Linked DNA regions of Homo sapiens. The protein of the gene in region 4 purifies or fractionates together with the protein of the main gene of each other region. This does not show direct contact. Each region holds a gene or a part of one and is shown on either strand. Other genes may lie near its edges.

Evidence for each region.
Region 1: the proteins of ST6GAL1 (region 4) and PIP4K2A purify together in Homo sapiens (affinity purification with mass spectrometry; 2 studies listed by BioGRID and IntAct, with this or other methods). This does not show direct contact.
Region 2: the proteins of ST6GAL1 (region 4) and ATP2A1 purify together in Homo sapiens (affinity purification with mass spectrometry; one large-scale study listed by BioGRID and IntAct). This does not show direct contact.
Region 3: the proteins of ST6GAL1 (region 4) and WAPL purify together in Homo sapiens (affinity purification with mass spectrometry; 2 studies listed by BioGRID and IntAct, with this or other methods). This does not show direct contact.
Region 5: the proteins of ST6GAL1 (region 4) and ARFGEF3 purify together in Homo sapiens (affinity purification with mass spectrometry; 2 studies listed by BioGRID and IntAct, with this or other methods). This does not show direct contact.
Region 6: the proteins of ST6GAL1 (region 4) and TMOD3 fractionate together in Homo sapiens (co-fractionation; one large-scale study listed by BioGRID). This does not show direct contact.
Region 7: the proteins of ST6GAL1 (region 4) and USP28 purify together in Homo sapiens (affinity purification with mass spectrometry; 2 studies listed by BioGRID and IntAct, with this or other methods). This does not show direct contact.

The regions. Positions count from the first base shown.
Region 1 is NC_000010.11:22,707,215-22,711,578, reverse strand, and holds part of PIP4K2A (phosphatidylinositol 5-phosphate 4-kinase type-2 alpha), read left to right. Parts: intron 1-4,364. UniProt on the Homo sapiens protein: Catalyzes the phosphorylation of phosphatidylinositol 5-phosphate (PtdIns5P) on the fourth hydroxyl of the myo-inositol ring, to form phosphatidylinositol 4,5-bisphosphate (PtdIns(4,5)P2). Has both ATP- and GTP-dependent kinase activities.
Region 2 is NC_000016.10:28,887,896-28,892,259, reverse strand, and holds part of ATP2A1 (sarcoplasmic/endoplasmic reticulum calcium ATPase 1), read right to left. Parts: intron 3,474-4,364; coding exon 3,307-3,473; intron 1-3,306. UniProt on the Homo sapiens protein: Key regulator of striated muscle performance by acting as the major Ca(2+) ATPase responsible for the reuptake of cytosolic Ca(2+) into the sarcoplasmic reticulum.
Region 3 is NC_000010.11:86,434,793-86,439,156, forward strand, and holds the end of WAPL (wings apart-like protein homolog), read right to left. Parts: intron 3,224-4,364; coding exon 3,128-3,223; intron 2,817-3,127; coding exon 2,751-2,816; 3' UTR 464-2,750; downstream 1-463. UniProt on the Homo sapiens protein: Regulator of sister chromatid cohesion in mitosis which negatively regulates cohesin association with chromatin. Involved in both sister chromatid cohesion during interphase and sister-chromatid resolution during early stages of mitosis.
Region 4 is NC_000003.12:187,075,628-187,079,255, forward strand, and holds the end of ST6GAL1 (beta-galactoside alpha-2,6-sialyltransferase 1), read left to right. Parts: coding exon 1-176; 3' UTR 177-2,926; downstream 2,927-3,628. UniProt on the Homo sapiens protein: Transfers sialic acid from CMP-sialic acid to galactose-containing acceptor substrates. In B lymphocytes, generates neuraminidase-sensitive lymphocyte cell-surface differentiation antigens, such as CDw75, HB-6 and CD76.
Region 5 is NC_000006.12:138,342,357-138,345,833, forward strand, and holds the end of ARFGEF3 (brefeldin A-inhibited guanine nucleotide-exchange protein 3), read left to right. Parts: 3' UTR 1-2,307; downstream 2,308-3,477. UniProt on the Homo sapiens protein: Participates in the regulation of systemic glucose homeostasis, where it negatively regulates insulin granule biogenesis in pancreatic islet beta cells. Also regulates glucagon granule production in pancreatic alpha cells.
Region 6 is NC_000015.10:51,828,084-51,832,940, forward strand, and holds the start of TMOD3 (tropomodulin-3), read left to right. Parts: upstream 1-1,569; 5' UTR 1,570-1,753; intron 1,754-4,857. UniProt on the Homo sapiens protein: Blocks the elongation and depolymerization of the actin filaments at the pointed end. The Tmod/TM complex contributes to the formation of the short actin protofilament, which in turn defines the geometry of the membrane skeleton.
Region 7 is NC_000011.10:113,865,285-113,869,648, reverse strand, and holds part of USP28 (ubiquitin carboxyl-terminal hydrolase 28), read left to right. Parts: intron 1-4,335; exon of another isoform or gene 4,336-4,364. UniProt on the Homo sapiens protein: Deubiquitinase involved in DNA damage response checkpoint and MYC proto-oncogene stability. Involved in DNA damage induced apoptosis by specifically deubiquitinating proteins of the DNA damage pathway such as CLSPN.

The DNA.
Region 1 (4,364 bases), on a different chromosome or scaffold from region 4:
TGGCATCAGTGTTTGCATCTGTGAACTGAGGTTGTTTGGATGATTTCCAAGTCTAACTCAAGATTCTGTTTTTTCAGTCTACTAGGTGCACAGTGTTATACTAGGATTTGTAGAATACTATATAAAAGTTGTCTTACTATTATAACCTTCCAAATGCAGCAACATTCAGGGAATTTTCAAGACCTTGACTACAGGGGAAGGAAATCTATGGTGATTTTAAGAGACTGTGAACTAAGGGTTTGTTATATTGAATGTAGCTGAACTGCATTGCAGTCTATTAAGCCAAAGTCGATTTGATTGAAACATAACAACTTGCAATTAAGGTGAAAATGTTCAAGTCCATTGAGGTGGTAATGAAAATCTTGATTTGGGCAATGGTCATAGTCGGGAGTAAGCCTGCCATTGTGTGGTTAATTTGATATGTTACTGCTTTGTAACTTAAAATACCCATCAGTGAATGGATCAGTGCCAATTTTTAAGTATTTTAAGCAGAGAATATAACTGAATACATAAAGGAAAAGACTTAAGGCAGTTTTGTCTTGTTACATTTAGAATTAAACTAAAAATGATCAAACAGTAAGCGTCTTAAGATGATATTTTAATAGTGTGGGGAGGATGTTGAATGATATGAGCCAAGACTTGTTTTAAATAGATACTCTAAAAGATTTTTATCCACAGTGAAATGTGAGCCTTTTAGAAATTAGTATTTTAAAACCTATTTAAATATCCAAAGGAAAACATTATCTGTATAGAAAAATCTTAAAGCACATAAAACTTGTTTAAAACATGTAGCATTTAGAAGTAGCTAAGTATTGATGTTAGAGGCTTTTGGTTTAAAGCTGTAGAAGTTGAAATGAGCTTTGGCAAAAATGTCAGGTATTGAGGGGTTTGGGGGGCCTATCACAGTAGAAGGAAAGGCTGGTAATGGAACCATGTGAAGAGCTGGGTGCTTGAGTGTGTGGGTGTGTGAGTGCGTGGGACTTTTCTGTACCCTTTGGCTCAGTTCTCCTTCATAGCTGGCTGGTTCCTCCACAGAGCAGGGAATGAACGGTTCCTGTATTTCACATTTTGTCATTTCTGCTCCCCCAAAAGGGTTTCCTGTCTCTAATTCAGTTATAAAAATACCGTGGAAGGATTCCACTTGGGATTGGTCTGGCCTTGGTCATTTGTGGCCGTCCCTTGGACTAAGCAGTTATAAAAACATGGCAGCGCTTGCCTGTTGGCGTTGGGGAAAGAACAGTCCCCAGAGAGGGGAAAGGGCCTGCCAGGCAGTTTCAGGCAGGTCTCTGTCCGAGTAATAGAGCTGGATGGTTCTGGACATCCGTGGGTCTTTACCGTGGGAATCTGTGAGGGCCAGCCTGATGAGCACCATGTGCTGTGTTGTGTGTGGATTGGAGAATTCATGGTGTCCTTGGTGGAGCGTCAGTAGCTTTGATTATATTCTCCACAAGCTCTGGTTTTTGGAATAGACAAAGACCATATTGGATACATCATAATTTTTTTTTTTTTTTTTTTGGTTCATGGGTTTTTATTTGGGCACTGAAAGAAGATAAGGAAACTAAGTTTTAAAGTGATTTGAGTGACTGTGAAATGACTTTGACTGAATAGGACATAATAAGGCAATTACATTAAAATTAAAATTAGACATTAGATGAAATTATTGAGTGGAACCCAGCTACCATTCATTCAAGAACTAGTCTCCTCAAACTATTTTTTTGTTCTTTTTAATCTTCAGAGGAAAGAAACATACCAAGCAGACATACAGAAAGTTTATTAGGGAAGTCGTTTTATACTCCTTAAAACTTGGGATTATAACCAGAGAACAGAATACATTTTCCTCTCCATTTGTCAGATACTTTAGAGTGAACTCTAAGTATTTATACTTAGTACTTAGTGTTACTTAGTACTTACAGTTACTAAACTTCAGTACTCAGAATGATGCCCCATGTCAGGTCAGTGATTTCTATTTCCAGGGTATCCTGATCTGCTGTGTCTTTAGATAGGTTGCCGGCAAGAATTATAATAAACCACCAAAATCTGCCTTAAGTTGATTAGAAAATACAGGCAACCAGAGTAATTAATTCTGCCAGCATAGCCTTCGAAATACAAATTTTGGAATTGAAGGGAATTGGTGCAATTTGGCAAAAAAGGTTTGTGGTTAGACAGATGAGGTTCAAATGCTAACTTTGGAACTGATGGGCTCTTTGAGCAGGTGATTTAGTCACTTGAGCCTCAATTTTCACATTCTTAAAATGGAGATAATGATATGACTTCACAGGGTTGAGAGTTAAATGAGATACTGTGTTTAAGGCCTAGCACTGTAATTAGCACATCATAAGGATTCAGTAAATGATGCCTAAAAGTAATAAAGTTCAAATGCAGTTTGGATGGTGATATATTAAAAGAACCAGATCCCTGTTTCTCAAAATTTAAGGTGTTTATCAATCGGGGACTTTTAAAAAAAAAAAAAAAGTCTGCTAAATTAGGCTCTGCTGCTGGGTAGGTGGCTCATGCATGTAATCCTAGTCATGCATTGGGAGGCTGAGGCAGGAGGATTGCTTGAGGCCAAGATTTTGAGACCAGCCTGGGCAGCATAGCAAGACCCTGTCTCTACAAAAAATGTAAAAACATAGATGGGTATGGTGGCACACACCTGTAGCCTGAACTACTCAGGAGGCTGAGGTGGGAGGATCATCTGAGTCCAGGAGGTCCAGGCTGCAGGGAGCCATGGTTGTACAGTGTACTGTAGCTTGGGTGACAGATGGAGGCTCCCACTAAATGTGAAACAATAAAAATTAAAATGCAGTGTCTAATTCAGCAGATCTGTTGGGAGTGCTGCCTGAGACTGTGCATTTATCATACTCTCGGGTGGTACTGATGCTGCAGGTCCACAGGCTACATAGCAGTAGAAGGAAGAACTTTACCACTAAGGATTCCTCCCCCAGCCCCAACTGTATGTGATGAGCCCTTAGAAGAATGGTGGCCCCATGATAGATTAGAGAATTTGGGAGAAGAAATTGTAGGTTGGAAAGGGACACAAGCAATTTAGATTTAAGAATGTGGAATTGCAGGTGATGGTGGTGGGTGGATCCTGCAGTTACAGTACCATGTAGGATGCTGGAAAGGTGTGATTGGAGCTCGGGAGCCACTAGGGCTGGGATAGACCATTGAGACCTGCCCGTACAGAATCGGTAAGTCAGATCTCCACCGGAGGAGCAGGGACACTGGGGACACTTGGCTTTGAGGGAAGGACAGAGGAAGAAGAAACAGGAGGAGAAAACAGAGGTCGGCACAATTAGATGTTCCCAAGTGCTTGAAAGTCATGGCTGTGCTTGTGGTTGATTGCGGGTGGCTGTGAAAGCTTAAAGACTTAAGGAGTGAATGAGTGGAAGTAGAGGCAATTCCTCTTTTTTGGAAGGTAAGTAGAAGGAAGGTGAAAGATGCCATTTTGTTAGGAATCCCTGGGGAGTTTCCTTGAATCCGTCTCTTCGTTTCCATTCTCACTTCTGTCACTCCTAACCAGATTTGTTTCCCTCTTTCCTAGACTGATATTAAACCCCCCTAGCTTATTTCCCTGTGTCTGCCTTTATCCTCATTTCTTTTCTTTTTTGTACTAGGAACTCCTATGGCAGTCCAGTGAAGGCCATAGACTCCTCAGAATGAGGCTTTTAAAGGAATAAATGAAAATACAGAGGATATGTCCTAGCAAGTTCAAGGATCCTTTTAATTCTATCCATGGACCACTTGGGAGTTCATGGAACCCCATCAAGAACCCTTGCAAGAATAAGATGGGGATAGTGTGGGGTGAGAAAGTGGGGAGAGCACGCAGCAGCCAGGAAGAATTCTTGGGGGGGAACACGCATAGGCTGAATTGATTACCCGCCTGGGTCACAGTGCCTAGTACTTGGGATTCACAACGGTACCGTTAACCACTGAGCTGTGCTGCCTGGGCCAAGCTCAGGAATCATTCATTTCTTTGAGTTCTTTTATTTTCTTAGTCTTAAGAGCTGTTCTTCTTGGATGGACAGAGTATTAGCTGTTAACATGGGAGAAAACTACTTGAAAACCAGTTTTTCCCTTCATAGAAAGAAAATCATTGTTAATGTTCAGAGCATGTAGGGAGAGAACCAGTACATAATTTATTTAAGAAAAATGTTGTAGGGAGTTTTAAAACAGTAACTTACCTAAAGCTAAGCCTCACAATTCTAAATCTTTATAGTTTTTCAGCTACCTGGGCACAGTGATTAAGAGCTCTGGAGTCCTTGTTCGGTTGGCTATGTGACCTTGAACAAGTTATTTTGCCTCTCAGTTCCTTGATTATAAAAGGAGGTAATAATGGTACCTACTTTGGAAGTTTGTTATAT
Region 2 (4,364 bases), on a different chromosome or scaffold from region 4:
TCTCAAGCTGACGTTTGACATTTCCTTCCAGTTATGCATGTTGTCAACAGACCACATTAGTATTAGCAAAACCTGTGACTGTCACCAATTTAATCACAGATACTTTCCTCCTATCACATTACCACTGTTGCAGATCTCTCAAAATAGCATAATTTATGCTCACCACTGCTTCAACATTATGATAGTGCTTAGACCCACTGCGAGAACTCCCTAATTAATGCCTTAATAAAGAAGCATGTGTGTTGCCAAATTACAAAGTTGTTTTTAAAAATTTTGATAGAACTGTATTTCACAATCATTGGTTTCCTCTGTAACCCTATGTATCTTTCCTATGTATTTTTTTTTTACTTTTTTATTTTTGTTTTATTTTATTATTATTATTTTTTGAGACAAAGTCTCACTCTGTCGCCCAGGCTGGAGTGCAGTGGTGCAATCTCACCGCAACCTCCGCCTCCTGGGTTCAAGCGATTCTCCTGCCTCAGCCTCCCAAGTAGCTGGGATTACAGGTGCCCACCACAACGCCTGGCTAATTTTTTGTATTTTTAGTAGAGACTGGTTTTCACCATGTTGGCCAAGCTGACCTCAGGTAATCCGTCCGCCTTGGCCTCCCAAAGTGCTAGGATTACAGGTGTGAGCCACCGCATCTGGCTACTTTTTTTTTTTTTTTTTTGAGACGGAGTCTCGCTCTGTCGCCCAGGCTGGAGTGCAATGGCACGATCTCAGCTCACCGCCTCTGCCTTCCAGGTTCAAGCAATTCTCCTGCCTCAGCCTCCCAAGTAGCTGGGACTACAGGCATGTGCCACCACGCCCAGCTAATTTTGTATTTTAGTAGAGACAGGGTTTCTCCATGTTGGTCAGGCTGGTCTCGAACTCCTGACCTCAGGTGATCTGCTCACCTCGGCCTCCCAAAGTGCTGGGATTACAGTCGTGAGCCACTGCGTCAGGTCTTTTATATTTTTTTTCGAGATGGAGTTTTGCTTTTGTCGCCTAGGCTGGGGTGCAATGGCGCAATCTCAGCTCACTGCAACCTCCACCTCCTGGGTTCAAGTGATTCTCCTGCCTCAGCCTCCTTAGTAGCTAGGACTACAGGCATCTGCCAACACGCCCAACTAATTTTTGTATTTTTAGTAGAGACGGGGTTTCTCCATGTTGGACAAGCTATTCTCGAAATCCTGACCTCAGGTGATCCACCCACCTCGGTCTCCCAAAGTGCTGAGATTACAGGCATGAGCCACCGTGCCCAGCTTCCTATGTATTTTTAAAACAGAATCCTGGCCGGGCGCAGTGGCTCACTCCTGTAATCCCAGTACTTTGGGAGGCCGAGGTGGGCAGATCACTTGAGGTCAGGAGTTAAGAGACCAGCCTGGTCAACATGGCGAAACCCCATCTGTACTAAAAATACAAAAATTAGCTGGGTGTGATGGTGCGTGCCTGTAGTCCCAGCTACTCAGGAGGCTGAGGAAGGAGAATCACTTGAACCTGGGAGGTGAAGGTTGTAGTGAGCCGAGACTGGGCCACTGCACTCCAGCCTGGGTAACAGAGTGAGACTCCATCTCAAAAAACAAAAAAAAACAAACAAAAAAACCCAGAATCCTGTTTTGTTTATTTATTTTTTACTTTCTATTTTATCTTTTAAAAGGTGGGGTCTCACTGTGTTGCCCAGGCTAGTCTAAAACTCCTGGGCTCAAGTGATCCTTCCGCCTCAGCCTCCCAAAGTGCTAGGATTACAGGCGTGAGCCACCGTACCTAGCCCTATTTTATTTTATTTTTTTGTGCGTGAGACAGGGTCTCGCTCTGTCATGCAGGCTGGAGTGCAGTGGTGTGATCACAGCTCACTGTAGCTTTGACTTCCTGGCTCAAGCAATCTCTGGGTTCAAGTGATTCTCCTGCCTCAGCCACCTGAGTAGCTGGGACTACAAGTGTGCACCACCACATCAGGCTAATTTTTTTTTTTTTTTTTTTTTTTTGGTAGAGACGGACTCTCACTATGTTGCTTAGGCTGGTCTCGAATTCCTGGGCTCAAGTGATCCTTCCACCTTGGCCTCCTGAAGAGATTACAGACGTGAGCCACCACCCCTGGCTTATTTTATTTTATTTCATTTCATTTCATTTTATTATTTAAGACAGTCTTACTCCGTCGCCCACACTGGAGTGCAGTGGCGCGATCTCGGCTCACTGCAACCTCTGCCTCCCGGGTTGAAGCAATTTTCCTGCCTCAGCCTCCCCAGTAGCTGGGATTACTGGCACGCACCACCATGCCCGGCTAATTTTTGTATTTTTAGTAGAGATGGGGTTTCACCATGTTGGCCAGGCTCATCTCGAACTCCTGACCTCGTGATCTGCCTATCTTGGCCTCCCAAAGTGTTGGGATTACAGGCGTTAGCCATTGCACCTGGCCTGTTTTATTTTATTAATATACATTTGAAATATTATCCTGACAAGAGCTCAACTGCAAAGGGGTGTGAGGCACAGAAAAGATTAAGAGCCCTGCTTTAGGAAATGCTGTTCACGGTCAGTGTTGGCAGTCTGGCCGGGCCCTGTCATGAGTGACCATTCTGGAGAGCCATCTACTTCACAGGCAGAAGCTCTGGGGCCACACAGACTCGGGTTTGAAGCTCAACTCTGTTATTTATTAACTGTGCATCTTGGGGGAAGTCATTTAATCTCTCAGAGGCTTTTTCCTCCTCTAAAAAAGGAAGTTAGGCTGGGTGCCGTGGCTCACACCTATCATCCCAGCACTTTGGGAAGCGAACAGGGGCACATCACTTGAGGCCAGGAGTTCAAGACCAGCCTGGCCAACATGGCGAACCCTGTCTCTATTACAAATGCAAAAAAATTAGCCAGGCGTGGTGGCAGGCACCTGTAGTCCCAGCTACTAGGGAGGCTGAGGCAGATGAATCGCTTGAACCCGGGAGGCAGAGGTTGCAGTGAGCCAAGATCACACCACTGCACTCCAGCCTGGGCGACAGAGTGAGACTCTGTCTCAAAATAATAATAATTTTTTTTAATTAAAAAAATGAAGATAATGAGACCATCCTCTGAATGGGCTATTGTGAGGGATGAGAGACGATGTGTGGCAGTGCCTGGTGCGTGGATGGTGGTCAGAGTGAGCTGTCTGGCTGGGGCACAAGGGTCCTCTCTGATCCCGTTCATGGCAGACAGGATGGCGTTCTACTGCCCTTTGAGCATTTTGCAGGCCCAGATGAGAAGCCAGCAGTGATGAAGGGAGACCTCTATCTTTGGAGGGCCCATTTAACCCCCACAGGCAGCCTTCTGACTGAGCGCGCTGCCCACACTGCTCCTGACCTTGCAGACAGACATCTGGTTGGTGGTGAGGGTGCCTGTCTTGTCGGAACAGATGACAGAGGTGCAGCCCAGGGTCTCTACGGAGGGCAAGCTTCTTACAATGGCATTCTTCTTTGCCATCCGACGGGTACCCAGGGCCAGGCAGGTGGTGATGACTGCAGGAAGACCTGTGGGGAGGGAGGGAGGGTGTGAGGGAACCTGCAAGGGGAGGGTGTGAGGGAACCTGCAAGGGGCTAAATAGTAGCCCCCAGCTGGGCACGTTGGTGCACACCTATAATCCTAGCACTTTGGGAGGCTGAGGCGGGAGGATCACTTGAGGCCAGGAGTTTGAGACCAGCCTGGAAAACACAGTGAGACTCCTCTGAAAATATTTAAAAATTAGCTGGGTGTGGTGGTGATTGCCTGTGGTACCAGTTACCCAGGAGGCTGGGACAAGAGGATTGTTTGAATCCAGGAGTTCGAGATTACAGTGAGTTATGATTGTGCTACCACACTCCAGCCTGGGCAACAAGAGTGAGACTCTGTCTCTATTAAACAAACAAACAATAATGGTCCGCAAAGATACCAGATCCTAATCCCTGGAGCCTGTAAATGTTACCTTACTTGGAAAAGGGGTCTTTGGGCCAGGCGTGGTGGCTCACACCTGTAACCCCAGCACTTTGGGAGGCCGAGGCGGGTGGATTGCTTGAGCCCAGGAGTTCGAGACCAGCCTGGCCAACATGGTGAAACCCCATCTCTACTGAAAACACAAAAATTAGCCAGGCATGGTGGCGTGCACCTGTAATCCCAGCTACTTGGGAGGCAGAGGCAGAAGAATCACTTGAACCCAGGAGGCAGAGGTTGCACTGAGCAAGGCCGGGTGCGGTGGCTCACGCCTGTAATCCCAGCACTTTGGGAGGCCAAGGCGGGCAGATCAGGAGGTCAGGAGATCGAGACCATCCTGGCTAACACGGTGAAACCCCGTATCTACTAAAAATATAAAAAAATTAGCCAGGCATGGCGGCGTGCACCTGTAGTCCCAGCTGCTAGGGAGGCTGAGGCAGGAGAATGGCGTGAAC
Region 3 (4,364 bases), on a different chromosome or scaffold from region 4:
ACTCTTACTCATGTTTAAGTGGGGAGAGTAATGGAAACTCCCAGGAGAGATCCTTCAATCTAGTTTTGTGGCTAAAAGCAGTAAGGAGAAGTTGAGGAATCTACTTGTAAATGCAGGATGCCTAAGGGCTGACAATTAAGAAGAAAACTGAAAAACTAAAAAGCAGTGTAAAACCTCAGAAGCAAAGATGTCTTGGATCATACTCATAGGAGCAAAAAATAACCTAAATCAAAACAGTTAAGTATGCCAAGGGCCTAACTGAAAATCCAGTCCCTAATTGGCCTGAGTTGTTGAGTTCACATTATATTCAGATGAGTATTATTAAAAACATGGAGAAATAATAAAATATTTAACAAAAACTGGTTAAATGTGTTAAGTGATAGTGTATTTCCCATTAGAGTCGGCTATATATAAAGTTTGTGACACTTCTGTCCTCCAATAGACTTATGTTAAAGACAACATGTGTATTGAAAGTAGCAATTTTATTTGAGTTAAAATTATTTACAAAAACCCAAAGACATACTTCATGAAACTGGTACAAACTATTTTTTCCTGCCGTTGGCTTTTGCTCCAAAGATCACAGCTGAGAAATACTGTATAAAATAAAAATAGGATTGGATTCAGAAAAGTACTCTACTGTTCTAATTTCCAATTGGTAGTATTTACAGAAATATTTACAATGGAAAAAAGGTTACTTTAAAACTTTTAGTTAAGTCAGCCTCAAGTACCCTAAAATGCAGAGTTCTCTGAGGGTTAAAAACACACAAATGCACTGCAGTTGGTGAAGTGATTATCTCCCCCACCACCTCCCCCCACCAAAATCTGCATCTCTATCAGTGCTCGACAATTAGTTATTATTTAAAAAACAAAACAAAACAAAAAACTGTTAAACACTGAGGTAAATCAATTTTCAAATGATTACCAGTGTAACAGAAAAATGCAGTTCGCCCTGATTGTTCTCATCCAAATGTTTTATAATATTCCTTACCATCTGCCACAAGTCAGGTTCACCAAAAATCTGTCCCTTTCCCTAAATCCAATGATTAATAAATATCAATGTATTTTGCATTTTAAAATAAAATATAACTAATTTAATTTTACGGGTATCATTTACCAATATGTTTTTAAAAGTATTTTGCTAAGCTAGCTTTAATACTCAGGGCAAATACAATCTCAATGGTTCCCACGTTACACTGGCGTACTATGTTCTTAAAAGGTGATGGGTAGGGGTTGGGGTGGGTAGAAGGAAGAAAACAATTTGCCTGGAATCAGTTACTTCCTTACAGATTTCCCAACAATCTGCATTATCAAAAATAGGAAGACAATAGAAGGCAGCCACTGCATTTAAAAACATTACAGCTGGCACTGATACAAGAGCCCCGATTTGTCACTTTATACAAGGAAATAACAAAGTCTAAATGGGTAAAAATTAGACTTTTAGCTATTTTCCCCAATACACACCAAACTAATATTTTTATGGCTTCAAGTTTTACAAATCCAATGAAGAAACATGATGTAACTACCTGAAAGGTATTTAAAAGTATTAATGAAAAAGATCTCTAGAAAGCCTGTATTCAGGCCCAATCAATAAAAAAGGAAAAAAAAAAGTATAACCAGTGGTGTGAATAATACAAGAAAAATTTGCAATGTTATGATATTAAATCTATAAAATGTTTTGTGTTCCATAACTGTTTTTCAAATAACTGCTCTACGAACAAAGAATCTGAATGAAAAAAGGGTCTTCTCTAAACCAGCAATTTAAGGCTTTGCGCTTATGCAATTGATCCTGTCACTCTATAGAAGAATATACATGTTATCTGGAAACAGGAATTCCACATTGGTGTTTTAGCTTCCTTATATTTATTGTACTGAACATTAGAAAATATATCTAGAGAGTCTTTCCTCAAAATCTAATAATGTTTTAAGAGCCTCCCTAGCATTAAGTGTAAACTACCCTGGGTTTGACTATTTTGCCTCCTCCTTTTAACAGGGCACATCATCTTATATAATATTCTCTCAAACTGTTGTTTTTCTTGTGCCTATAGCTATGACACATTATGGTATGATATTGAATATGGTTGTGGTCTCAAAAGTAAAAAATAGTTCAATAACCCAAACCTAATCAAGAATAAAAAAATATACTATTAATCCCGTGTATCTTTGGATTCCATCTAATTTTAAATATAGACAGTAGTTCAGGGAACAACAACCAAAAAATTCACAAAATTATTAAAAGCTTTATTTACGATTGGAATCATTCAACAAAAAAGCAAAAGCAAATGAGCCTGAAAAAGGAACTAAGCTGTTGTCTAGAATGTCCTCAGAACATTCGCTACCTCAGTAGCTAAGCTGCCTTTGCACCTGGCTGGCATGACAACAGTGGCTCAACATACACAGCAGTTGCACTAACAGCAGCACAAATTTTCCCCTTCAAACTTGCCCAGAATAAAGCAAGAAAACAAGGGGAGGGTATAAACTCTGCCAAAGTAAATGTATTTAAATACTGCATGGAATTGTTAACAGCCTGAACCTTTTCCCCTCATTTTTGATAGTTGCAGATTGATGTAGTAACTGTCATTTAGCAAATGCCGAATGCATGACGAAGAAATCAGGTGGCCTTAAAAATCCAAACACGAATGATACTGATGAATGTTCTTGGTATATCTTCAAGGACTTCTTTCATGACTTGACTTTTCTTTGTCTAAGGATAGCTCCAGCATTACCGAGCACCTGAAGCAAAGGTAAAGCAGCTAGCAATGTTCCAAATATTCAATCACTCTAGAGATAGATTTCTGGCCAGTTGTTCCAACAGCACACTGAAAGCAGGGTGAAGGGGAAAGGAAGTAACAGTTAATATTTAACAGATTTTAAGAAGTATAAATAAAAGTTTACCTCTAGATTTACTAAACTGAACACTACAAATCAAAGTACACCGAGATTAAATTGTGGGTTTGATAAAGTTATTTGCCATAACATGCAATGATTACCTTGAAGAAATAGAACACGATTATTAAAATTAAAAGAAAATCCCTTTTTGCTCCCACTTACTATGGCCATAGTATTTTTATGTCTACTGTCAATGTATTATAAATTTAAAATCATATAAGCTGTAATAAAAGCTACTTACAGTGAGATTCATAAAACTCAAAAATTTTTTGAGCATCTCTGTCATTATTGAAAAGTCTCCTTCTGGCAGATATTCCCGCACAGTGGTTACATTGATCTGAGGAAACAGAGCAAGAAATATTGGTCAGCTGGCAGAAAACATGAGATTGCACCTCGTACAATGTTGTTGGTTTTGACACACATCTTGGTGCAAATTTTTAAGATCCTTGGAACACGTGGTTATTTATTCTCTTTCCACACTCACTCTGCATGTGATTTCCTACCTCACCCTCAGAAAGAAAGGAGAAAGGTAAAGTTGGCAAAAGCTACAAAGAAATATTTGTGTACACATTTACTTTTTTTTTTTTTTTTTTAAATGAAACAGTCACTCTGTTACCCAGGCTGGAGTGCAGTGGTGTAATCTCAGCTCACTGCAACCTCTACCTCCTGGGTTCAAGTGATTCCCATGCCTCAGCCTCCCGGGTAGCCGGGATTAAAGGCACGTGCCACCATGCCTGGCTAATTTTTGTATTTTTAGCAGAGACGTGGTTTCATCATGTTGGCCAGGCTGGTCTCGAGCTCCTGGGCTCAAGTAATCCACGCACCTTGGCCTCCCAAAGTGCTGGAATTACAGGTGTGAGGCAGCATGCCGACCTACTTTCATAAATGCAAAGAAAAAGGCCTGAAATAACAAACTGCACTGTTTAATGTATGTGTGTGTTTCACTGGGGGCCCTGGGGGAATAGGAGAAGAGGGTGAGGACTTTAGACCTGAGAATGTACTCACAAAGCTGCTCATGAAATAAAAAGATCAAAGAAAAATTCACATCCTTCACAGATGAATTCAACTAATTATATAGGACAGGAATTAACTAGAAGCATCTTTCCAAAGGCAATCTAACCTCATCTATGATAGATTCTCAGACAATATCAGGAGAGAAAACCCTTCATTATTAGCAAGAAGCAGCCAAACTATATATAAACCAATCTGTTACATGGAAAACATTACACAACCTGCTTAAAAAACTATTTCATTAAAGAATGCTTTAAATGTTTTACGGAGAATAAAAAGAAAAAATCTTTTAGGAAGGTTCACCTGTAGTAAGGGGCAAAAGAAAGTATACTGTCCCAAGTTTGGGGACACAAGGTAAAGGGTTAAACAAAACCAACCAAAAAACAAAAAGAAAACACACAAAAGCTCCCAATTCGACTTTTGTTAGCGGGGGCAAAAAAGGAGAGATGACATATTTCTCTTCAGAA
Region 4 (3,628 bases):
AGACTGACGTGTGCTACTACTACCAGAAGTTCTTCGATAGTGCCTGCACGATGGGTGCCTACCACCCGCTGCTCTATGAGAAGAATTTGGTGAAGCATCTCAACCAGGGCACAGATGAGGACATCTACCTGCTTGGAAAAGCCACACTGCCTGGCTTCCGGACCATTCACTGCTAAGCACAGGCTCCTCACTCTTCTCCATCAGGCATTAAATGAATGGTCTCTTGGCCACCCCAGCCTGGGAAGAACATTTTCCTGAACAATTCCAGCCTGCTCCTTTTACTCTAGGGGCCTCTGTCAGCAAGACCATGGGGACTTCAAGAGCCTGTGGTCAGGAAATCAGGTCCAGCCTTCCCTGTAGCCAGACAGTTTATGAGCCCAGAGCCTCCTGCCACACACATGCACACATATCTAGCATTCTTTCCAGACAGCATCCTCCCCGCCTTCCACCTTGGTAGATGCAAGGTCTATCTCTCCCATCAGGGCTGCCAAAGCTGGGCTTTGTTTTTCCCAGCAGAATGATGCCATTCTCACAAACCAATGCTCTATATTGCTTGAAGTCTGCATCTAAATATTGATTTCACGTTTTAAAGAAATTCTCTTAAATTACAATTGTGCCCAATGCAGGGTGGCTCTGGGGGGCAAGTAGGTGGTACAGGGGATTGGAAACATGCTCCGCGCCTCCAGAGAAAAGTTGCTCCCGAGGTCCATGCCCCTGGAACGTGTTCCTATCACTCTGGCTGGTTGGGCTGGTCCTTAGACTGGGTGCTTATGATTAAAGGGTCTTGGTTAGCCCACTTTCCCTCTCCATGTGGAGATGGAAGGTAGAGAAGGATACAGTGTCTATCCTCAAGTTGCTACGGTTCAGTGAGAGAGGCAGACATCTGAACAGGCAGGTAGGATTCAGTGTGCTCAGTGCACTGGGGATTTGGAGAGAGATGGGCTTGCTCTCTCTGTGCACCCAGGAGGGCCACGCACTTAAAACTGTGTTTGTGGATCAGAGAAGGCTTTATAGCACAGGGGGCATTCAGATGAGTCTTAGAGGAAGAGAAGAAACATGGCAAGCAGATTACATCTGAGCCGTTTGAATTGTGTTTTTCTTTCTTCCCATGTTTATTTTCTAAGATCTACCTGAACTTAGAGACTCAAGATATTTTTTTAGGAAACCTCCTACCCATGTCTGAGGTAGCAAGTGCAGCCTCACGACAGATACCAGGCAATCCAGAGCCACAAAACGTGATTCCTCCAGGCTCTGCCTGGCCTGACCCTGTCCTGTCAGCTGGGTTTACATACCAGTCCCATTCTTCCTTTTCAATACCTACCCCCAAATCTTCTCCTAACCACCATCTGTTTTTTTTTTTTAAAGCATTTTTTGCTTTAAAAGCATCCTGACCCCAATTTCTTTGAGCTCACGGGCCTTTTGCTGAAGGTCTCTCAGGGTGTAGTGGTGTGGCTCTCTGGACTTAACGTCACTCTCAGAGGTCAGAACCTTGGAGATCAGAACTGATTCTCACCAGGTGTGAGAGGTGTGGTAGCAGATTGCAATGCTCTGCACCTCTTCCTTGCAAGTGAGCAACTTCAGGCTCTCTGGGCAGAGGCTGGCCCACTGTAGTTTGCAGACATGCTCTCCAGATGGTTTTACTAAGTCCCCTCTCCCTGATAGGGAATCCTGCTGGACCAGCGCAGCCCTGGTGTGGAGAGGTTAAAAGACTTGCACAGGATCACCAAGTCATGCTGTAGAGCCAGGATTCCTAGACCCAGGGCTCTGCACTCTCAAGGCTGGCCCCATGTGCTCAAGGGGATCTAATGTTTGGGCTCCAAACTAACCATCTCGGAGCTGGGCTCCTCATTTACTGCCAAACCCTCAGCTTATGTAGCTAGAAAGGGCCCTGGAGTGAGAAAGCCTGGATTTTCAAATTGATGCTCCCCTACTGACTAGCTGTGCCACTCTGGGCAAATGCTCTTCCTTGAGCCTGTTTCCACACCTGTAAAGTGGGGATGATGATCCTATCTCACTGCTTTTGTGAGGATTACAGGAAAGCACCTGTCCTGGCTCTGTACCTGGCACGTAGTAGGTGCTCAGTTCATGCTGGTTTCCTTCCTGCCTTTAGTAGGGACCTGCTCTGTGCTCACACCTCGGCTGCATGCACCCTGCTGTGACGGAGGCTAGTGTGGAAGAGGTCCTGTCCTCAGGGAATTAACTGTCTTATTGGGAGACAACAACTGTCCTCCTTGGAACACCCAAGAAACCATGCAAAGCAGTGGACAACACAGAACACGCCCTCCTCCTCGCTGCCTGCAGCTCCAATCTGATTCTGCTTGGGAATGGGCGGAGCACGTGGGCTGCTTAACTGCTGTATAGGACAAGCCCCTTACCCCTCTCTGGGCCCATGAATTCCTGGCTTGGTTTATGTTCTGATTTGACACACTGATTTTAATCTTCGAATCATGACACTGAGTGCAGAGGAGGTGGCATTCCGACAGCAGGACATACATGTTGGTGTGAAGACTGGGACGACACTGGGTAGAATCTAGTTTTTAATTATTATTAATATAAAGGATCAAATTAATTTAAATATGATTCTGAAGTCTACAGAACTTTTAGTTCTGTGCTGTCTATGTGGACACTTTGGTAAAATGCAAATTATGATATGGACGTTATCATTGGTCTGGTGAGATGTTTCATATTTGTGACAGTTAATTTAAAAATTATGAGTTAATGCTGCCTGTGTCTATGGGGTTCTGTCTTCTTTGATAGCCATCTATTCATCTGGATCATGGGACCCTCTCTAATCCTTCCACCAATCAAATAAGCTATTGCTATTGGTTTGGAGTTGAGATATCAGTCTCGGAAACTTCTGAAAAATGCTAATAATTACCCAAGGATTATGTCAAATTTTAAAATAAATGTGTGTGTGTTTCTTTAAGCTGCTTCTCTCTTCTTATTTGCTAAATGAACAACTGCTGATTGCCAACTTTTATCTCCAAAGAGGACACAACTGAGATCCTGAACCCCCCAGTCCTTACCCACTGGCTCCTCTAGCCTTAGACTTACTCCTCAGTACTCCAGGAAAAGAAATGTGAACTTTACTGGAAGGATCACCTCTTTGAAATATTCACTGGTTTACTGATTTTTTTATTTTTATTTTTTGTTCTTGCCTGGATTCACATAACTAACCTGTTGCATCAAAGAAGAGATGGAGTCGGGCAGAAAGCAGAACATAAGGAAGATCCTTCCCTCGGTTTCCAAAACTCTAAAATCCTTAAATGAATGATGTCTTAAAAGGATTTAAAATGTTTGGACACAAATCTTGAGAAGGAGCATGAGTTAGGGGAGAGAGGATAATTCCTTTCTCCTGTGAACTGCCCACCCCCTTGTTACAGGTTGAATTGTGTCCCCCCAAGATTTGGATGTCTGAAGTCCTAACCCCCAGTACCTCAGATTATGACCTTATTTGGAAATAGGGTCATTGCAGATGTAATTAGTGACGATGATGAGGTCATATTGGAATAGGTTGGGCCCCTACTCCAATATGACTTGTGTCCTTTTGAAATGTGGAAATTTGGAGACAGGCATGCACACAGGGAGAATACCATGAAGGCTGAGCCCACAGAGATACCAAGCACCT
Region 5 (3,477 bases), on a different chromosome or scaffold from region 4:
CTTATCAAACGCTAGAGAAAAACTGAATCTACCCTTGGGCAGATGACTTGGGATTGGATTCTATACAGCAGTCTTGCTCAATCTTCCCAGTTTCCAGTTTTATTATACCAACAATTGGTTTTTACAAGCTAGAAGACAATGAATGTATAAGTTCTATGGAACAGTGAGATAAATCTAAGCTTCTTGTCTTTGTATTTAGAAACATTGATTCTATGGATGATCATTTGTATCATGTTGACCCTTTGACTTGTACTGAAGGTGATTTTAAATTTAAGTATGTAGTGTTTGAATTTCTTCCATCCATGTCGTTTTAATGAGATGTTTCCATGTCAGCTCCTTTACAGCCTTGGCTCCTGGCTTACAGATTTTTGAATAGTTGTTTGCTTGCCAGTTGTTTTACATCTTTCATTGGCCACCAAAATATTAGCCATTTGAGATGAGATGAGACTACTTGTTGTACCTTCATCTTTCATTTAATTTTCTGGCGTAAATTAACATTTTAATTTCATATATATCTGTAAAGAGTCTACCCAAAGGCTTCACGGAAATTTGCAAAATGAACTAATTCCCTTTTAAGCAGCAGGTGTGCCTGTTTTTGACTTTTCAGTAAATATGTTGTTTGTGCACATATCTACATGGTGGAGACCATATTCATTATTTCATCTTCCAAATAATGGGAAAAATATAAAAGTGAATCAGTGTGCTTTGGGAATTCAGTGAAATCATGTTAACTCATATAGAGGGGGCCTTAGTTTATCTCTTCTTTACTGAATTAATTAGTTTTGGAAATTCTTTTACCATTAAAAAAAATTAAGGACCATACAGAGAATGATTTAAGAAAAAACAAGTCACTTAAAAATCATCACCTATTTATAAACTGTATTAATTACACATAATGCTTATTGATTCAATGAGGTTTCTCTAAAGACTTCTGCTTAATAAATATGCTGACTTCATTTAAATTAGTTTAGACTATTGTAGGAATGGAAGGAAATGATTATATTTACTAGAATTAGTGAGATCAGAAAGCATATCAGAATGTTGATGATATCAAGGAGACAATCTACAGAGTTTTTGCCTCTGTGGATGGAAATAAGGGTGTTTTTTTTTGGTTTTTTTTTTACTTTAGTTTCCCATAATTTTTGGAAATTATGTGTGCATTTAGTTCTTTTAGTAACACTGATTTTAAAATTAAATTTCAAAAGTCAATCTCTAAGAGTAATTTATTTTTGTTTTACCAACCAGTGCCAAAAAGGAGAGGAGGGAATCCAAAAGCCAATCTTTTGAACCAATGTGTAAAAGATTATGTTTTTTCTTAAAGTTAGGGAGGCTCGGGCCCTGACACTGCCAGCCCCAGTGAGCATCCCTGGCTACCTCGGGATTATGTGCAAGCTGCTTTGTCCTACATTTCTTTCATCTGGTTCTTATTGGGAGTGCTTCTCTCTAATAAAAATTGATTTCCCACAAAATAGGCAAAGCTGAACAAAGATGAATGCTTTTGATAAGTTGGGTTTCACTTCAGTTGAAACAATGTGATAGAATATCCAGGTGTGGCATGATGGGGCAGGAGGAGGTGCCTAGAGGGAAAAGTTATTTTTGTTTCTTAGTGTTGTGTTGTGGGGATGGGACAGATAAGAATAAGATGTTTATTGCCCTAATCATGCTAAGAGACTATTATTCAATATGCTTTTCCCGCTTTTCTAAGAGGAATAAACTTAGACAAATTACATTATAAACAGTTCCCCTACTACTATCTCCCACTCTAGATAAAGCCAGTGGGTGGTATGGGTCCTTTTATTCCTTATAGTATTATGCCAAAGAATCAACTTATTTTCATTGAAGATTATAAATAAATGAAGCTTGTTATAGCCATAATGATTTGAGTCAGTATACCATTTTACCTATAAAATGCAAAATTCATCCTTGCAACCCCATTCACCAGGAGCCTTGAAGCATTTTGTTTACTCCAAAGGCCTTGTCAAGGAAGCATAATTTTTTGTTTTGCCTTCTTATTTAGTCAGTTTGGTCATATTTACTTAAAAAAACAAACTGAAAATCACACTCCTTTATATGTTGATATAACTGATTTTATAGAATCTGTCTGTTCTTTGTTTAACAGGTCTCTGTAAGCAAGCTTGCAAGTGTATTTTGTGTACATTTTATCTGAGGTGGAAATGAAAATTCTAAAGAGAAAATATTTTAAAAGATATTGTATTTATGTTGCTTGTGTTGTAGAATAAAGATTCAAATGCATTAAAAATCTGGTACATGAAACAATTGTGTTTACTGAATAAATATATATAAATATCCTGTGTTTACAGAATTCTGTCAAAAGAATTAGGCCCCTTTTCATGGCATTTCATAAGTCTAAATGTAAAGGCCCATTTTAAATCCTGTAACATGGAGATAGTCATTATTGACAATTTGGTATATGCCTAAAAAACAAATTTGTAGAAATAATATATCATTTCCTTGTTTAAAAAAAGGGCTTATTCTATGATATTATCTTTTACTCATAAGAACTTATATCAAATTCCTACTGTCAGTAGATATTGATGTAGATCATTCATTTAAAAAATTAAAGTATTACCTTTTGTTCATAAACAACCAAAAATCCAATTAATAAGAATATTAGTATTTAAAAGTAATATTAAAAAATACAGCCACTTTTAACTTCCTGATCTTACTAGATTATTGTTTTAAATACACATATATCAAAATATCACACTATACCCCATAAATATGTACAATTAATGTAATTAGTGATGTCAATTAAAAACAAAATTTTTTGCATGGTGGCTCATACCTGTAATCCAAGCACTTTGGGAGGCTGAGGCAGGCGGATCACAAGGTCAGGAGATCAAGACCAACCTGGCTAACATAGTGAAACCCCATCTCTACTAAAAAAAAATACAAAAAATTAGCCAGGCGTGGTGGCAGGCACCTGTAGTCCCAGCTACTCGGGAGGCTGAGGCAGGAGAATGGTGTGAACCTGGGAGGCGGAGCTTGCAGTGAGCCAAGATTGCGCCACTGCACTCCAGCCTGGGCGACAGAGCAAGACTCCATCAAAAAAAAAAAAAAAAAAAAAAAAAAATTATATATATATATATATATATATATATATATATATATATATATATATTTAAAAAGAAAACGTTTTAAAAAAAAGATTGTAAGTCTATAATATATCAGCCTAGGTATCACCCTGCCCAAATCATAGAAAACTGCCGTTTAGCCAAGCTTGGGGTAAAAGACATTCAAAATGCTATGGAAATTGAATTTTTGCTTATAAGCTTAAGTCATGATTCTATCATGCATACACACTAGTAGTCTCAGTTACACCACCAAGACTCAATCACTTCCATCATAAGGATGAAATAAAACTAAGATAGGCATCAACATACTTTGCATAAGAACATCACAAATACAGGGGCCAACCATGTTTATGGATGGAGACAGCTGAGAGTGAAGCCTCAG
Region 6 (4,857 bases), on a different chromosome or scaffold from region 4:
AGTTTTGAGGATTAGATGAGATATTACAAATGAAGTGCTGGCCCAGTGGTTGGTATGTATTATAAGTATAAACATTCTTATGAACCTGAATTCTGTAGGAAATTGCTCTCAGAAAGCTGTTATCTCCAAGAGATTGACCCAAAGATGGTATAGAAAATAAAATGCAATGGCCACAAGATTGAGTGTTGACTGTCCTCTAAGTATTTGCAATTGAGAAGGGTTTTTTCCTGGCCAAGCACGGTGGCTCACGCCTGTAATCCCAGCACTTTGGGAGGCCAAGGTGGGCAGATCATGAGGTCAAGAGTTCAAGACCAGAATGGCCAACATGGTGAAAACCCATCTCTACTAGGACTACAAAAATTAGCTGGGTGTGGTGGCACGTGCCTGTAATCCCAGCTACTTGGGAGGCTGAGACAAGAGAATCACTTAAACCTGGGAGGCAGAGGTTGCAGTGAGCCGAGATCACACCACTGCACTTTAGCCTGGGCGGCAGAACAAGACTCTGTCTTGGAAAAAAAAAAAGAAGGGTTTTTTTCCCTTAAAAACCTAAACCATCAGTGATCTCCATTGCTGAAATTAGTGGGTGCCAGTTGCATGAAATTCCAGGATGTTTATCTAACCTAGGGTCCTCCCTCCTCTGAGGGGAAGAAGTAGATGCCAGGAGAGGTTTAAACCATGAAGTGGCTCGCACACTGGGTGTAGCTGGAATGTACCTCAAGCAGGCACGTCAGTCCACTTCTTTGGCTGCATTTTTGAAAGGTGTGTCAAAGTTTAGCATTATTCCTGGGGATGGTCTACTCCTGAAGAGCAGGCCAGGAAAATTCCCAGTAAGTGACTAAATGAATAAATGGAAAAATGTCGCAGTTCCCTCTCCTCAGAGCCTCGCACAAAAGGTAGCCATTACATAGGCCACTGTCAAACAGTCCTCTGAGAGATTCCCACACTCTTCCTCTTCCCTCTAGACTACCCATCTGCCCCAATCCCCCCCTTGAGCAGCCTATTCTGTTTTTTCTCCCACTACAGCAGCCAGCCCCACCGCCTGGTGTAGAGCTTGAAGATGGAAAGGGAAGATAGGATGGGCAGAAACTGCCCTGCAATAGCTACATCATCCCCGAAACGCATACCTAAGAAAACCACTAAGGTCACCACACCCTGGAGGTGACATTCGCATGATTTATGCCTCTCTTGGGCTTTAGATTTTATTCCTTTACTTTTCTATAACTCTGTCATGACCAGTTTAAAGGCCCCAATGTCATGTCCTCGCATTAACAACCAAGGCTACAATGCAAGCCCTGCCATGTGCGCTTCTTTACAAAAGGTCAAAGTAAAAAGGAAATCTATACCAAAGAGCCTCTAGATACTATTTCCAGCTTCGGGGAAGTCCATAGTAGGTACTTCCACGGGTAGAGAACATTATCTTAGACTGGGATAAGGGTTGGTATTCGCAGTCCCCTTCCTACGTTCTGCCCATTGTAAAGACCAGGGTCAGCGTTGAGCCTCGCCCTTCTTGCTAGAACTACAACTCCCAGGATGCCCCGCGGCACGGGAGTGCGCACGCGCGTCGGAGGCGAAGGAGGAACCCACCGCACCTACAGGGCGGTCGAGTGAGGGAGCTGCTGGCGGGTGGGTCTGGCAACTCTTTGGGAGGCCGACGCGGGCGGACCGGCGGGTGCTGGGAACCGAGCCTCGGCTTGCGGCCGGCAGTTTCCGTGGGTCTGTGAAGAGGTCGGCGGCCCCTGCGGGCGCCAGTCAGGTAAGCCCAGCCCGGTGCTTTCCAGGAAGTCCGTCTGCGGGCGCGGGTAGGGAGTCGCACCGGCCATGGTGGCTGAGGAGGGAGAGGTTGCTGCCCGCCGGCCGCCCGACTCCAGGCTCCTTCCCGACGGGTCCGTCTCGGGGAGCAGGGGTGCGCGGGGGCTGCTTCTGCGCGAACGGCCCGGGCGGGGGACGTGGGGCGCGCTGGGCGTCGCCCGCCGGTCTAGGCGCGCGAACCTGGCGTTCCCAGTGAATCACCCGCGGCCCGGGCGCCCGGGTTCGGGACCGGCCCCCTCCCCTCCCGCTGAGCCGCGGCCGAGCTGGCTCCCTGCACCCTACCCAGCGTCGCCGGGACGCGATCACACCGAGATGGCACCGAGCCTCCTTCAAAGGCTTCGGCTTGTTGAAAGTGGGGCGGCGGAGTGGGGGAGCCAAAACTTAGGGCACACCCTTTTTGTGATTGAAATGTGGCTGCCCTTGCATTCACCGGTTTGATCTGTCTGCTCTTAGAATTAAGTTCCTAGCTCCCAGGCAGCACAGCTGGATCCGGCTGGGAAGTTTGTGTGTTAGTTTGTTTTGAGGACGTGACTGTGTCGTTATATTTTTGCTTGCGGGGGATGGTGTGTTTCCTCCGCAAGCCTGCATTCTGATTACAAACAGAAATGGGAAACAGCCACAGTTTCTTTTTTTCTTTTTAATGTTTAGTTAAGAATCGCATTTCCAACTTGCCCTTGGCCTCTGTTAAAACCAAAAGTCATCTGGCAATGAACACTGCAGTAAAACTTACCCCAGGAGGCCATACTTCAACAGGAAATAAGCCTGTGGAGATTTAAGTTAGTTATGTGCAGCCTCCCTTGGTTTGTAACATTTTCATGCAGCTCATGTCTCCTCTCCTTTTCTGAGAAACCTTCAGATTAATTTTTTTGGCAGATTAAATTGATTAATTGGCCCGTCAAAAATATATTAGGCTTGGAAAAATAGCTTTGCCAAGTCTCATTTACTCTTGCTAGTTTCTTCTTCCTAGGCACCTTTTCACCTTTAAGAGTCAGCAATCATAATAGTTACAGTCCCCTTTCTTACACATTCCTACGAAAGGAACAAAACGAATTAAAATGTCCCAATATATTTTAATTCTTTGAGCTTTCTTTGCTTTTGCAACTCTCAGAAATTGTAGTTTGCTGATCTTTAAAATTAGGTTGTTGGACCAGATGACCCCCAAGATTATTCTGCCCCTAAATATCTCTCGTTTTTAAAAGTTCATTTATTTTGCTCATTCAGGAAACACTGGCGATATGCATTCCAAGTCCTATGATAGACATGAGAAAGAGCAAACATGAGTTCTTGAGAATGCTGTAGACCTACTGCTCAATTTTATTTAATCATATTTTTTATGATTAATTCCTAAATTTTGTGGTATATCCAATATGCCAACCTACATTGTAATTAATAACTTCATCTGAAATTAAATAGGTACAGGTCAAATCCCATTCAAAGATTTTTCGTGTCTTAATTACTGGCCCATTGAAACAAAACAGGTTTGGTACAACAGAAAGGCCCTGAATGGTGGAGGGCAGTCTTTTCAAACACTTTAGCATGCATAATTCATTCAGGATATTCTAGGTTTGAAGTAGAGTCCAAAGTCTGTATGTCTGATGGGTGATGCTGTCAGAGACCATACTTTGAATGTCAAGTGTGGGGAGGTAATTTTAGAGGTATTTTCAGGTGTTTTTAATAGCAATTTAAATACTGGTACTGATAACTGATATTAGATACATAATTGATGGCTTTTTCAACTCTCAGTTTTTTAAAATACTGTAGTCCTATGAACTCTAACAAGAACAATTGTCATCATAAGTTTTTCTCCTTCTTTCCTTTTCCTTTCTCTTTGCTAGTTTTTCTTTTTTCTCTTTGCTTTTTTTTTCTCTCCTCCTCTTCCTTCCTTAATTGTTTTCATTCACATTAATTTGGCAATTCATGAATTCAAGTATGTGTCTTGCCCCATTCTGTATTCTGTACAAAGCAATGTTTCAGGCTCCTGGTGAATATGTATAAGACATGAGGCCAGGGCCGGGCCTGGTGGCTCACACCTGTAATCCCAGCACTTTGGGAGGCCAAGGTAGGAGGATTGCTTGAACCCAGGTGTTTGAAATCAGCCTGGGCAACATAGCAAGACCCTGTCTCTACAAAATAAAATAGATTAGCCAGGTGTAGTGGTGATGCCTGTAGTCCTAGCTACTCAGGAGGCTGAGGCAGGAGGATTGCTTGAGCCCAGGAGTTTGAGGTTACAGTGAGAGACAATGATTGTGCCACTGCACTCCAGCCTGCGTGACAGAGTAAGACCCTGTCTCTCTAAAAAAAGAAAAAAAATTATATATATATATATATATATATATATATGAATGACATGGTTCCTGTCTAGGACCTTATTCTCTTTGGGATTAGGCAGATATACTTATGTATAGTCCACAGCACTTGTAAGAGCCACCTGTAGGGAATAAAAACGTGGTAGATATTCAGGAGAGATATTTTCCAGTTGCAGGAGTGGGGAACAACTAAAGTCAATATTTTTTTCCATTCACTGGTCATCTCTTTCCCCAGGCTATACTGTCTATACTGTTTGAATGTATGTGACATATCTACATAGAGTATAGTGGAATTCTGTAAATTTATTTTATTTGGAACCTGAGATGAGCCAGATACATGAACATAATTAGAACCGGATGTGGTGGCACGCTTCTGTGGTACCAGCCACTTGGGAGACTGAGGCAGGAGTACCACTTGAGCCCAAAAGTTCCAGGACAGCCTGGGCAACATAGCAAGACCCTGTCTCAAAAACTAAAACAAAAGAGAAAATCAATTATATCTGAGCAATATCACAGGGAGGATGAGAGGCTTTGCGGATAAAAGTATACCTGGATAGAGGGAGGGAGAAAGATAAAGAGGAGGATCCAGTAAACAGTAGAGGAAAAAAAGGCTTTTAGTAAGGTTTTCTGGTGTCAGTCTGATGTATACTGATATTTAGGCTGTGTTGTAGCTGGCAAACTACTCTTCACACTTTTCAGTTGCTCTTTAATATGCATGAGCTCTCTCGATTAGAGTAGATGA
Region 7 (4,364 bases), on a different chromosome or scaffold from region 4:
AGGTGTGAACTATTACCCTATTACTGATGAGGAAACTGAGATGTCTTGTTTGTTTTTTGAGATAGGGTTTCACTCTGTCACCCAAGCTGGAGTGTGGTGACACCGTCAAGGCTCACTGCAGCCTTGACCACCCAGACCCAAGCAATCCTCAGACACTTGAGTAGCTGGGACCACAGGTATGCACCACCACACCTGGCTACTTTTGTTTTATTTTATTTTTTGAGACGGACCGCAGTCTGTTGCCCAGGATGGAGTACAGTGGCGTGAGATCAGCTCACTGTAACCCCCGCCTTCCGGGTTCTATTGATTCTTCTGCCTCTGCCTCCCAAGTAGCTGGGATTACAGGCACATGCCACCACGCCTAATTTTTGTATTTTTAGTAGAGACGGGGTTTCACCATGTTGGCCAGGCTGGTCTTGAACACCTGACCTCCGGTGATCCGTCTGCCTTGGCCTCCCAAAGTGCTGGGATTATAGGCGTGAGCCACCGAACCCAGCCTGTGGTTAATTTTAAAAGTTTTTTTAGCAATGGGGTCTCTCTGTGTTGCCCAGGCTGGTCTCAAACTTATGAACCAAGTCATCCTGCCTCAGCCTCCAAAAGTGCTGGGATTACAGGCATGAGCCACCGTGCCTGACCTCAGATGTTAGTATGCCTTATAAGGGCCTCATATGAGATTTATTTTATTTATTCCTTTTCTTTCTTTTGTCTTTTTTTTTTTTTTTTGAGACATGGTCTTACTCTGTCACCTAGGCTGGAGTAGTGCAGTGGCTCTATCATGGCTCACTGCAGCCTCAACCTCCTGGGCCCAAGCAATTCTCCTACCTCAGCCTACAGAGTAGCTGGAACTACAGACATGTGCCACCATGCCTAGCTAATATTTTTAGTTTTTGTAGAGATGGGGGGTCTCTTTATGTTGCCCAGGCTGGTTTTGAACTCCCGCGCTCCAGTGATCCTCCCGCCTGAGCCTCCCAAAGTTTTGGGATTACAGGCGTGAACCATGGTACCTATCTCTTTTTTTCTTTATTCGTATGAGATTTTAAACTGAAGTCTGTTTGCTTCTATCTTACAGATGAGAAATGCAGCTTATGACCATGATTGAATTATAAGTAGCAGAGCTGTGACTTCAAGCCATTCTGACTTGAAGCATAACATTTCTCCGACTTTAGTACAAGCCTTTCTAAAACCAAAGTTTCTGACTTACCACTTGACTATGTAGCACTTTAATAATTTTAATAACTTTTCATTGAACCCTCATAGGCACTCTATGAAATAAAATTTAGTATGAGCAGGAAGTAGAATTTGCAAAGTGACACAGCAAGTAAGTGATAAAACCAAAACTATAACACAGGATATCAGTATTTTTACTGTAAACTCTAGAGGAGTTTAGTTGAACAGGCAAGTCCCAGTATTTTTCATTTCTATTGCATTTCTTCATTTTGCTAACAATTTATTTGCAGTACTTCCTTTGATAGTCATACAGGGCTGTCAAAGCTTTTGGTGTACTTCATTTTCCATTCTGGAAACTGATGCTGAGGAAGATTGAGATTTGCCAGGAGGCTGATGTGTGCTGGAGTCTGGGCTGCATGGCACTATTTCCAGCGTCTAGGCTTTCTACGTAAAACAGGGGTCAAAATATCAGACACACAAAACCAAACTAAAGATCTGCCTCAGTAAGTACCAGCTGCATGCTACATGATGGCTGGTAGGCACTTTAACCCTAAGAAGATTTTCTAAACAACATTTTCTTTTTCAATCTTCTTGCCCAAGTTAGTACTTTCTTGTGTCCCCTCCCTCCCTCCCTTCCTCCCTTTCTTCCTCCCTCCCTTCCTCCCTCCCTCCCTCCCCCCTTCCTTCTTTCCTTTTGTGTGGGGATGTGTATACAGGTTTCCTTATTCATTTGTTTTTTCATAGAGTTGGGGTCTAGCTATGTTGCTCAGGCTGGAGTGCAGTGGCTATTCACAGGCATGATCGTGGTGTACTACTGTTTGAAAATCCTGGGCACAAGTGATCATTCTGCCTCAGCCTGCTGCAGAGCTGGAACTACAGGTGTGTGCCACTGCACCCAGGTGATTTTTTTTTTTTCAATTGAGGCAAAATTTATATAACATAAAATTATTTTAAAGTGGGGCTGGGTGAGGTGGCTCACTGAGGTCAGGAATTCAAGACCAGCCTGGCCAACATGGTGAAGCCCCGTCTCTACTAAAAAATATAAAAATTAGCCAGATGTGGTGGTGAGCACCTGTAATTCCAGCTACTTGGGAGGCTGAGGCAGGAGAATCACTTGAACCCGGGAGGCAGCGGTTGCAGTGAGCGGAGATCATGCCACTGCACTCTAGCCTGAGTGACAAGAGTAAAACTCTGTCTCCAAAAAAAAAAAGTTCAAGTGTACAAGTTCAGTGACATTTAATATATTCACAATATTGTGCAATCACCAATTCCGTCTAGTTCTAAAACATTTTCATTACCCTGAAAGAAAACTTTGTAACCATTAAGCAGTCACTCCCTATTCCCCCATGCCCTCCACCCCTGGCAATACCAATCTACTTTCTGTCTCTAGATTTACGTATTAGAGAGATTTCATGTAAATGGATCATGCAATATGTGACCTATTATGTGTGGCATCTGTCGTTTATTGTAATGTTTTTGAGATTTGTTCAAGTTGTAGCATGTATGAGTTTTTCATTTTAATCACTGAGTAATATTCCACTGTATGTATAGATATGTTTTGCCTGTCCATTCTTCCATTGACGGACATTTGAGTTATTTACACCTTTTGGTTATTATGAATAGTTCTGTTATGAATTTTCATATACTTGTATTTGAGTACCTGTTTTCCCTTCTTTTGGGTATATACCTAGAAGGAATTGTTGACTCATATGGTAATTCTATGTTTAACTTCTTGAGGAACTGCCAGACTGTTTTCCAAGGTTGCTGGGGAAGTTTTATATTCCCACCAGCAATACACAAGGGTTCTAGTTTTTCTCTTTTCTCATCAAACACTTGTTATTTTTTGTTTTTGTTAGATAACAGTCATCCTAATGGGTGTGAAGTGGCATCTCATCATGATTTTGATTTGGCCATGTTAATGTTATGGCTAATGTTAAGTGTCTTCATAAACTTATTGACTATTTATATATCTTCTTTGGAGAAATATCTTTTTAAGTTCTTTGTCCATTTTTGAATTGGGTTGTCTCGTTTTTTGGTTGTTGACTTAAAGGGAGTTCAAAGAGAGTTTTTTATATCATCCAGATGCTAGACTCTTACCAGATAAATGATTTAAAAGTATTTTCTCCCATTGTCTTTTCACTTTCTTGATAATTTGTACACTGTGTATTTCTTTTTTCTTTTTTTTTCCCCAAGACAGAGTCTGGCTCTGTCACCTAGGCTGGAGTGCAGTGGTCTGATCTCGGCTCACTGCAACCTCTGCCTCCTGGGTTCAAGTGATTCTCTTGCTTCAGCCTCCCAGGAAGCTGGGATTACAGGCGCGTGCCAACACACCTGGCTAATATTTGTATTTTTAGTGGAGATGGTTTCACCATGTTGGCCAGGCTGGTCTTGAACTCCTGACCTTAGGTGATCCACATTGGCCTCCCGGAGTGCTCGGATTACAGGCATGAGCCACCGTGCCCGGCCAGCACTGTATATTTCTTGTTGGATTTCTTGATGTATGTGTTTATTTCTTGAATTTGTATACCGGTTGTCTTTTCACTTTCTTGATAATGCCCTTTGATGCAGAAAAGTACATCAGCCCACTTCAGTGTCCCAAGTAGCTGGGACTACAGGTACACACCACCATGCCTGGCTCAAAAGTGTTATTATTTTTTTCTTTTGTTGCTTGTGCTTTTGGTGTCATAGCTGAGAATCCATTGACAAATCCAAGGTCATGAAGACTTATCTCTGTGTTCTAAGAATTTTATAGTTTTAGTTATTTATTTAGGTTGTTGATCCATTTTGAGGAATTTTTGTGTATTGTGTGAGGTAGGGGTCCAGTGTGATTCTTCTGCTGTGGATATCCAGTTGTACCAATACCATTTGTTGAAGACATGATTTTTCCCCCATCAAATGGTGTTGGCACTCTGGTTGAAAATCAGTTGACCACAGATACGAGTTTATTTCTGGATTCTCAGTTCTATTCTGTTGGTCTATATATCTGTCCTTATGCCAGTACTACACTGTTATGATAACCGTAGCTTTGGATTAATACTAAGTTTTGATATAAGAAGTGTGAGTCCTCCAACTTTGTTCTTCTTTTCAATGTTGTTTTAGTTCTTCCAGGTCCTTTGAAATTCTGTGTGAATTTGAGGATCAGCTTTTCTGTTTCTGCAAGAAAGGCCAAAGCATTGCAGCTCTTTTAGAATTTGTCT